Linked DNA regions of Homo sapiens: region 1 is linked to region 2. Evidence: fine-mapped expression QTL. A gene starts in region 2. The other region holds a variant in brackets. All regions are shown on one strand. Distances are between the middles of the regions.

Region 1 (4,388 bases), 76 kb before region 2:
ATCCCTCTTTTAGCTTTTATACTATCCATTTTTCAGAAATAAAGACCCAACAGGCTACCCTTGCAACCTTTTAAGCTACTAGCCCCTTTGAACACAATAACTTGGCAATATCCCCCTCTTATATCCAATCTTTATTGTCTTGCAGTCAACCAAACCAGGAGCCTTAGACAAGAGACTCTGGCTGAGAGCACTTGGCAGTGCCCTCCTTGCGATGAAGACTGGGATAAAGGTGAGCTGCCTCTACATCTTTTTCTTCACAATGTCTAAATCTCAAGTCATTTGCTTAAGACAGAAGGAAGATTTTCCTTTTTTATGAACATACCATGTTGTTCAGAATGCCTTATTATTTTTATTGGGCCCCAAAACGAGCACATTTGTATCGCTGTGCAGACACGTGGAACAGCCAATCCCTCTTGATTGGAAAAAGCACTTCTTTACATCTGTTTTTTTCCATAAATTGTGTTGTACCATCTGTGTTTGATTGTTAGTAGGCACGTTTATTATTATTTATGTTGCTTGTGTTTATATTCTTCAATTAAATTCTTGCTACTGTGTCACTTAGGCAGGACACTTGATCAATTTTTACTTGCTTCTGCAAAACTTAGGTGTATTATTTCCCATCTTATAAATTCAACCAACATGAACTGCTGGTGTCTTATCTAGTAGTACCACAAACTATGTTTTGCTTCCTTTAACAGATTTGTGGGAGCAGACCAGCACCCCATTTGTCTGGGGCACAACTCACTACTCTGACAACAACAGGTAAATGAAATAGTCTTATCCCAGCATTGTCTCCCAAAATCAGCGTGTTCTGTTACCAAGAGAAGCCACCGGAGCATGAATTGACCACTTTCTTTAACGATGTTCCTTGATGGTAGTTTAGTCTAGATATTGTTTTGGCATTTTTTCATATTTATTCCTTGATTCAAAAAGGTCATGTGCTTTGTGCCAATCATAAGGGATACAAAAATACATTATCGTTTAGCAAGGGAAACAGTAGCCCCAGACTTTCATGTGTCTTAGTTATGTTTTTTGCTAGGTTTACATTATTTTAATGCTTTGAAAAAATTCTCCCACTATACCACTTGGATCATTTTTACTTTAGGTAACTAGTGTATAGGAAAAAGCAGTCTTAAAAATTCTTTATTTGAGATTGGAAAATCCAGAGTACCTATTAGGAAAGAATATGCATCTCTTCTTCCCACTGATTTTGTATCTGATTTATTTTTTTAGAGACAGGGACTCTGTCAACCAGGCTGGAGTGTAATGGCATGATCATGGCTCACTGCAGGCTCTGCCTCCTGGGCTCAAGCGATCCCCCTGGGCCTCTCAAATAGCAAGAACTATAGGGATCCACCACCACACCTAGCTAATTCTTTATTTTTGCCCAGGCTGGTCTCAAACTTCTGGCCTCAAGTGATCCTCCCCCCTCTGCCTCCCAAAGTGTTGCTCATGCCCAGCTCTAATTGAAAACTAGATGATTTCTGGCCAGGCACAGAGTAGCTCATACCTGGAGGCCAAGGTGGGAGGATCGCTGAGGCCAGGAGTTCAAGATCAACATGAGTAACACAGTAAGATCCTGTCTCTACAAAAAAATTAAAAAAAAAAAATAAGCTGGGCATGGTGGTGGATGCCTATAGTCTCAGCTACTTGGGAAGTTGAGACCAGAGGATCATTTAAGCCCAGGAGGTCGAGGCTGCAGTGAGCCATGATCATGCCACTGCACTCCAGCCTGGGTGACAGAAAGAGTCCTTGTCCAAAATAAAATAAAAATGAATGAAGCTATTTCTCATTAACACCAATACTCAAACCTTGGAAGATCAAGTTTCAAACCCAAATGAGAATATTTCTGGTTTAGGAAATGAAGGAATAAGATGCTAGACTTCACTTTTTTCCCCAAACAGAATGCTTGTCAAATTTTTACTTTTTAACTACTGAGAACAGTAAATAATTTTAAGTGTATACTATTTTATGTGCACTAAG[A/C]TAGAAAAACTTAAAATGAATTCCGTTGGCTACAACTTTTAATTTTACCTCAGTTGAAGATTTGCTGCTTTTGGTTTGGTTGCCTTAGCACTTTATTTTATCTCTTACGTTTATTGAGTGAGTTGATGAGCCTGTCATACAGCTGAACAGTAGATGGCATTGCTGTTTATCTCAATTTCTAGAAAATGAAAATGGTTAGACCCATCTTAATGTCTATACAGAACAGGGAGCTTTCCAGAGAAGTAAGTGGTAATCATTCTAATTGCCGGAACGTTTTGATGGAAATGTGTTTACATTTCAGATGAATGTAGGTTGTTGTTTTTCCCCAAATTACAAAAAACACATTTTGATTATCTTACGTGTGCCTGCTTGAATGATACTGATCTGCCGACATAGCCAAATTCATCTTTTTGCAGCCCTGCGAGCAACATAGTTACAGAACATAAGAATAACCTGGCTTCAGGCATGCGAGTTCCCAAATCTCTGCCGTATGTTCTGCCATGGAAAAACAGTAAGTGAAATAGAGACAAAATAGTTTTACTCTTTTCATTGTGCTAAATACAGTTGATCTTGATTATTCAGATGTGTTCAGTCTGAACACCTTGCATTTCCATGACCCTTAAAGTGAGTGCCTCCTTAAATGTTATGCCCTAAGCACCTTACTCAGTTCACCCTACTGACCGTGGTTAGGAGCAAGAAATTATGAACAGGAAAGTATAAGATCACAGAAGCCAAAAGAATATTTTCAAAATGGGGTGACCACTGACGTCAAATACCATGAGAAAATTTGGGAGCCAATAAAAAGGTTAATGATTTGGGCTAGGAGGAAGTGATCCCTGATTTCTTTCAAGGCATAATATCAGGCCGGGCGCGGTGGCTCACGCCTGTAATCCCAGCACTTTGGGAGGCCGAGGCGGGCGGATCACGAGGTCAGGAGATCGAGACCATCCCGGCTAAAACGGTGAAACCCCGTCTCTACTAAAAATACAAAAAATTAGCCGGGCGTAGTGGCGGGCGCCTGTAGTCCCAGCTACTTGGGAGGCTGAGGCAGGAGAATGGCGTGAACCCGGGAGGCGGAGCTTGCAGTGAGCCGAGATCCCGCCACTGCACTCCAGCCTGGGCGACAGAGCGAGACTCCGTCTCAAAAAAAAAAAAAAAAAAAAAAGGCATAATATCAGTAGGGAATTGGGATCAGAAATTGGATTGTGAGGGCCTAAAAGGAAATGAGTAGAGAGAAAATGAAAGTCATAAGTCATAAGAACCAGCATAAAGAATGGTATTCAGATGTCCTCCCCAGACTTTAGAGGTCATGCTGGGTAAACAAGTACTAAATTTGTATCATATTACCGTCATAATGAAATTTCCACATAGAGAACACCCAAGATACTGTCATTTTTACTTAATACAAACTTTCTTTTCCAATGTTGCCCCTAGATTCAGATTCTCTTGATTTCAGTCTGTGCTACTGTTTGAGCTAATTTTTAGGTGGCTAGAGGATTCACTTTAAAACGTTTCTCCCTGGATACTTGCATTTCCCAAAAAATGAAGTCACCAAATTATATGTCAAAAGGCTTGGTAGGTAAAGGTCTATTTTCTTTTCCCATGCTCTTGAATGAAATCTGATTACTAATATTAAATTCTTCTACTTTTATATTATAATTCAGTATACACAGGAATAAGTCATTTGTGTTTAGTAAGAATAGGGGATGGAGTGAATTTCAATTGACATGGTGTATTTATTTTGAAATATTTCTACTTGTAGATGGAAATGCACAGTAACTGAATACCTATCTCATCAAGTAAGTGTTTCAGTTTTATTTCACTGTCTCTTCAGATGGTAGCAAGATTTAACTGGACATAAAGCAATTTGGGTCCAATTTTCTTTCAGATTATGGTACCAAATTAAAGCTTTGTGTGTGCATGTGTTTTTTAAGTATATAGCCTCTGTTATGGCTTTACACTCTAATGAATAGGCATTTACTGGTTAAATTAGAATTCTGTTAACATGCCAATTTGTTTTCTCTAACATTAGTACACATTGCCTTTTTTTTTTTTATCAAAGTTGCATTCTAGATCTATCATGCCTCTTTTAATGGACTGAGATTAATCATTGAGCTGTGCTTCACTGCTCTGCAATTCATTCCCTGTGCAGTACAGTTTAATACTCATCAAAAAATTCATACTTTTTTTAATGAGCACTTAAAAGTTTTGGGTTTCTGGCCGGGTGCAGTGGCTCACGCCTGTAATCCCAGCACGGGGAGACCAAGGCGGGCAGACCATTTGAGGTCAGGAGTTTGAGACCAGCCTGGCCAACATGGTGAAACCCTGTCTCTACTAAAAATTCAAAAATTAGCCGGGCGTGGTGGTGCACGCCTGTAATCCCAGCAACTCGGGAGGCTGAGGCA
Region 2 (4,388 bases):
TCCTTCCCTCACTGTACCCTCATTTGACCCCTCTCTCCCACTCCACTCCCCTCCCCTCCCCCGCTCACCCAGGGCTCATGTCTGTGGAAAAGATGAGTTGTTAGCCATAGATAACTGAGTGGCTGCTACCTGTTTTCCTCTATCCCTCCTCTGGAGGAAAAATGAGGACTCCAACCTGAGGAAGTGCATGGAACCTGCTCTCCCCTTCCTCTCCTTGAACAAGATGGAAGCCTGTGCTCAGATCTCTGCTTCAGTTAAATTCAAGCCCTTTGGGAGTAAGGTAGCAGAGAAAGAATTTGCTGTAGAGTCCAGCAGATCTTGATCTATATCTCAGCTCTGATATTTACAGGCTGTGTGACATCAGCCAAGTTTGTTAACTACTCTGAGTCTCCATTTCCTCATAAGTCAAGTAGAAAAATATTATCAGCTACTTCATTGAATCATGGCTACTTCATTGAGCTACTTCAGAGGTTAAATATGATAATACTTGGAATTCATTACCTGGCACATAGTAGCCTCAAATTTTTTTCTGTGGCTTTTTCTGGAACTCTGCTGTCTCCTCTTAAGATGGCTTTGAGGAGTGGGAGCCTAGAGAAATCTAGAACCAGGGAAAGGGTCAAGCCAAGCTTCAGCCTCTGGTGCTCTGGGGCAGGGCAAGTGCCAGCCCAAAACCAGCTGCTGGGGGTGGATGCTGGGTGCAGGGGACTCTGGGAGCACTCAGGTTTCTCTCACCATTCCTGATGCCGCCTGGGGCTCATTAAGGCTGCCCTGGCCTTGGGTAACAGGCAGTAAGGGAGGGTGGGGCACAGAGGGCAGATGCCATAAGGGGACAGACCAGGAAGGGGAGGTGGTCAAGCTGCCCCATCCATCTATCTGTCCCTCTCTCTTCTCTTTTATCTTTCTCGCTGTCTCTGTTCTCTGTCTCTCGGTCTGTCTGCCCTAGTCTCTAGTTCTGTGTCCAGCTTTTCGGCAGTGTCTCTCTGTTTGTATGTCTGATTTCGCTCTCTGACATCTCTCCATTGTTCTCTATCCTTTTCTCTCTCAGTGTCACTGTCCGATTCCTCAGTCACCTATTCCTGCTGCTACCACTCTCCCATCCTCTCACTCACTTTCATCTGTCCGTCTCTCTGTGTGTGTGTGTGTGTGTGTGTGTGTGTGTGTGTGTCCTCTCTCCACCCCATCCCAACCTTGAAGGTGACAGAGGAGGGAATAGACACAAAGCATACAGACCCCCAGCTACTTAAGGGTCAAAGCCAAGGATCTTACCCTCTCCTTTAGCCCTGAGAATTCTGAAGCCCAAACTCCCAGTAGCCTTGACCCCCTGCTCTGTCTCAGTCACCCTGACCACCCATCCTGGCATGGGGTGAAAGAGACAGACCCCTCCAGACCTTTCTGGACCAGCTCCCAGCCCCCAGCTGTGCCTGAGCCCTCCCCACCCCCTCCCTGTCGCCTCAGATTCCCCTAATCCCTGCTCCCCTGCCCTCCCCTCTGCCCCACTTTTCCAGGATTCTGATTGGCTGATTCTACTGACTGGGCTGAGGGGGAGGGGGCTGGCAAGGGAGGGGGCAGAGGGCAGAACCAAGGGAAGGGGACGCTGTCAGGCCCAGGCCCCTGGGGGGCCAGGGCCAGGCCACTGCCTGGGGGCAGCAGGCATCAGAAACTAAAGGTATGAAAGGGGGTGGTGTCTGGAGGGAACAGGAAGGGATCCTGGAGACCTTCTGCTCTAGTAAAGTCAAGGGAGGACGGGCCAAGCACGCAGCCTCCTCGGTTTGCCTTTGTTCCTGGGAACCCCTGTTGCTGTCAGGGGGTTACTGGAGCAGTGAAGGGCGGCCAGAACTCCCCAGCTGGTGCACAGCAGGGTCGCAGAAGGGAGCTGGGCCAGTGGAAGCCCAGAAGGGCTCTGAGGACCTTTGGGCTGCCCCTTTGGAGTCTGGTGGAGTTCCTCCCGTGACTCTGAGAGGAGGAGGAGAAGGTTTCAGAGAAGGGTAGTTGAATGGCTGGCCTGGACTTTCATTTCCCCTTGGGGTCAGACCCAGGCATTCCCCGCCCATAGGCCAGGTCGAGGTTCCTCCTGCAGAACTGGACCTGTAGCTGAGCATTCCTGGTGAGACAAAAGGGCATGGGGGAAGACTGAGGAAGGTTGGGAGAAGGGGCTCTGAGAATGGCCTAGGTAGTTCACCTCCCAGAGCAAAAGCCACCCAACCCACTACCTACCCCCACAGATGTCAATAGTTAATAAAGAATTATAGTTAGAGCAAAATCTAATTCTAGGGCATCTGAGAGATTCAGCAGCCCCCCTCCAAATCTAAGTCTCAATATCCCCCTCTGGTCAGTAGGATGAATCACCCACTTGACTCTCTTCTTCCTGGGGCGATACCAAGCTTTAGGATCCCCTGGGGGAAAGCAAAACCAGAAGAAGAGGGTGGCCAGGGGCTTGAGGCTGGGAGTCCTGCTGGTTCAGCAGGCAGCCTGCAGAAAAGGTATGAGCTCTTACTGGGTCTGTAATGTGCCTAAGGAGTTTGGGGGAGGGAGGCTGGAAAAGGGGGAAGTGAAAACCACCCAGAAGGGAAGGACTGGTCTACACCCTCCCCCAGGCCCACAGGGCACTGTGCTCCATTGCTCTGGAGCCAGCAGGGGAAGTGTGTACACTATGTGCACTGAGGGTGACACTTCTGAGTGTGGGGGCCCTGGCTAGGGAGTGGGACTGGCAGGCTTGGGTGGGGTTCCCAAGCTTTAATCTTCCTACCCCACAGAATGTTTTCTCTGCCCTTCAGGCAGCCTGAGCCGGGCAGGGCCCCTGCCTCTGCTACGGCAGCCCCCGATCATGCAGCCCCCACTGGACCTCAAGCAGATCCTGCCCTTCCCACTCGAGCCAGCCCCTACCCTTGGCCTCTTCAGCAACTACAGCACCGTAAGTAGCAGCCTGCCTGCCTTCTCCATCCTCTTGTGACCCGACCTTTCTCTCTCAGACCCACCTCTGCCCTCTTCTTCTGTTTCTAATTCCTTATCTCCTCTTATGACCCCATCTTCCTTAATTCTAGTTAATTTTGAGTATTGTGGGCCATCTGGTACAGTGTTAACAACAATAATAATAGCTAATATTTGCTGAGGTCTTGCTACGGGCCAGACACTGTGCTAAGTGTTTTATATGAATTATCTCATTTAGTCCTACAGTGAATCGCCCTACCATCTAGAGAAGTAATGAGACTTAAATTGGTGGTAGTAACAGTAGGGAGGTAGGAGGGGTGTAGGTGCTGAATCCAGAAAGAGGGAATGAGCAGGAAAATAAGCATGCCTGTTTGTAAGTTTCACCTCTCTGCAGTCCACGGCTGGGTGGGTAGCATCAGTGGGATAGGGCTTGGAGGACTGGCAAGGTGGTCTAGATTTAATACAATATGAAATAAGGAGGTGCTGTCTATTCGTGTGTTTGTTTGTTTGTTTTTATGAGACGGAGTCTCACTCTGTTGCCCAGTCTGGTGTGCAGTGGCACGATCTTGGGTCACTGCAGCCTCCACCTCCCCAGTTCACCGATTCTCCTGCCTCGGCCTCCCAAGTAGCTGGGATTACAGGCGTGTGCCACCACACCGGGCTAATTTTTGTATTTTTAGTAGAGATGGGGTTTCACCATGTTGGCCAGGCTGGTCTCAAACTCCTGACCTCAGGTGATCCGCCTGCCTCAGCCTCCCAAAGTGCTGGGATTACAGGCATGAGCCACCACACCCAGCCGCCACTGTCTATTCTTGAGCAGGAGAGTGACTTGGTAAGAGCAGTGTTTGAGGAAGGTGAGTGGGGCAACTGGATGAAAGGGAACAGAGGCAGGAGGAAGGTGACAGTTAGGAGGCTGTCCTAGCAATGCAGGCCCGAGGGAAGCCTCAAAAGCCAGACGGGGCTGGTGGCAGTGGCAGTATGAGTGGAGAGAAAGGGAGAATGGGGGAGGTAATTTCAAGGAAATATTGACAGGCCATGGTGACCAACTGGTGTTTGGGGGTGGGGGAGAAGAGAAGGCATGAGTCAAGGATGACTCCAGCATTCAGGCCTTTGTGATTGGATGGAAGTCACCACTGACAGAGGCAGAGGGTTGGAAGAGGAAGCTGGTCTCCAGTGAGGATGATGCTTTAGCATGTGGTGCTAAAGCTAAAGCTTTATTTGTTTTGTTTTGTTTTGTTTTGTTTTTGAGATGTAGTCTTGCTCAATCTCTCAGGCTGGAGTGCAGTGGCATGATGATCTTGACTCATTGCAACCTCCGCCTCCTGGGTTCAAGCCATTCTCCTGCCTCACCCTCCTCAGTAGCTGGGATTACAGGCACGTACCACCATGCCCAGCTAATTTTTGTATTTTTAGTAGAGATGGGGTTTCACCATCTTGGCCAGGCTGGTCTGGAACCCTGA

Evidence for each region. PIP is the estimated chance that this variant, and not a neighbour inherited with it, causes the effect. A credible set is the group of variants that fine-mapping cannot tell apart.
Region 1: its variant is the best candidate, but not a certain one, in a credible set for the expression of ZNF385A in whole blood (TOPMed, PIP 0.75).

What each region holds. Positions count from the first base shown.
Region 1 is chr12:54,458,483-54,462,870 of GRCh38, reverse strand. GTSF1 (gametocyte specific factor 1) reads left to right here. Exons shown (of 9, transcript NM_144594.3): 5 at 146-229; 6 at 699-762; 7 at 2,400-2,494; 8 at 3,746-3,782. The coding sequence ends at 3,762. The region is part of intron 3 of GPR84-AS1 (GPR84, ZNF385A, ITGA5 and GTSF1 antisense RNA 1); the gene reads right to left. Among named protein-coding and RNA genes, the nearest start is that of GTSF1, 13 kb to the left of the region's middle. The variant A/C (reference allele first, on the strand shown) is at 1,984.
Region 2 is chr12:54,382,951-54,387,338 of GRCh38, reverse strand. ZNF385A (zinc finger protein 385A) reads left to right here and starts at 2,606. Exons shown (of 7, transcript NM_015481.3): 1 at 2,606-2,911. The coding sequence starts at 2,825. All of the region lies in intron 1 of GPR84-AS1 (GPR84, ZNF385A, ITGA5 and GTSF1 antisense RNA 1), which reads right to left. RefSeq lists an enhancer at 1-49.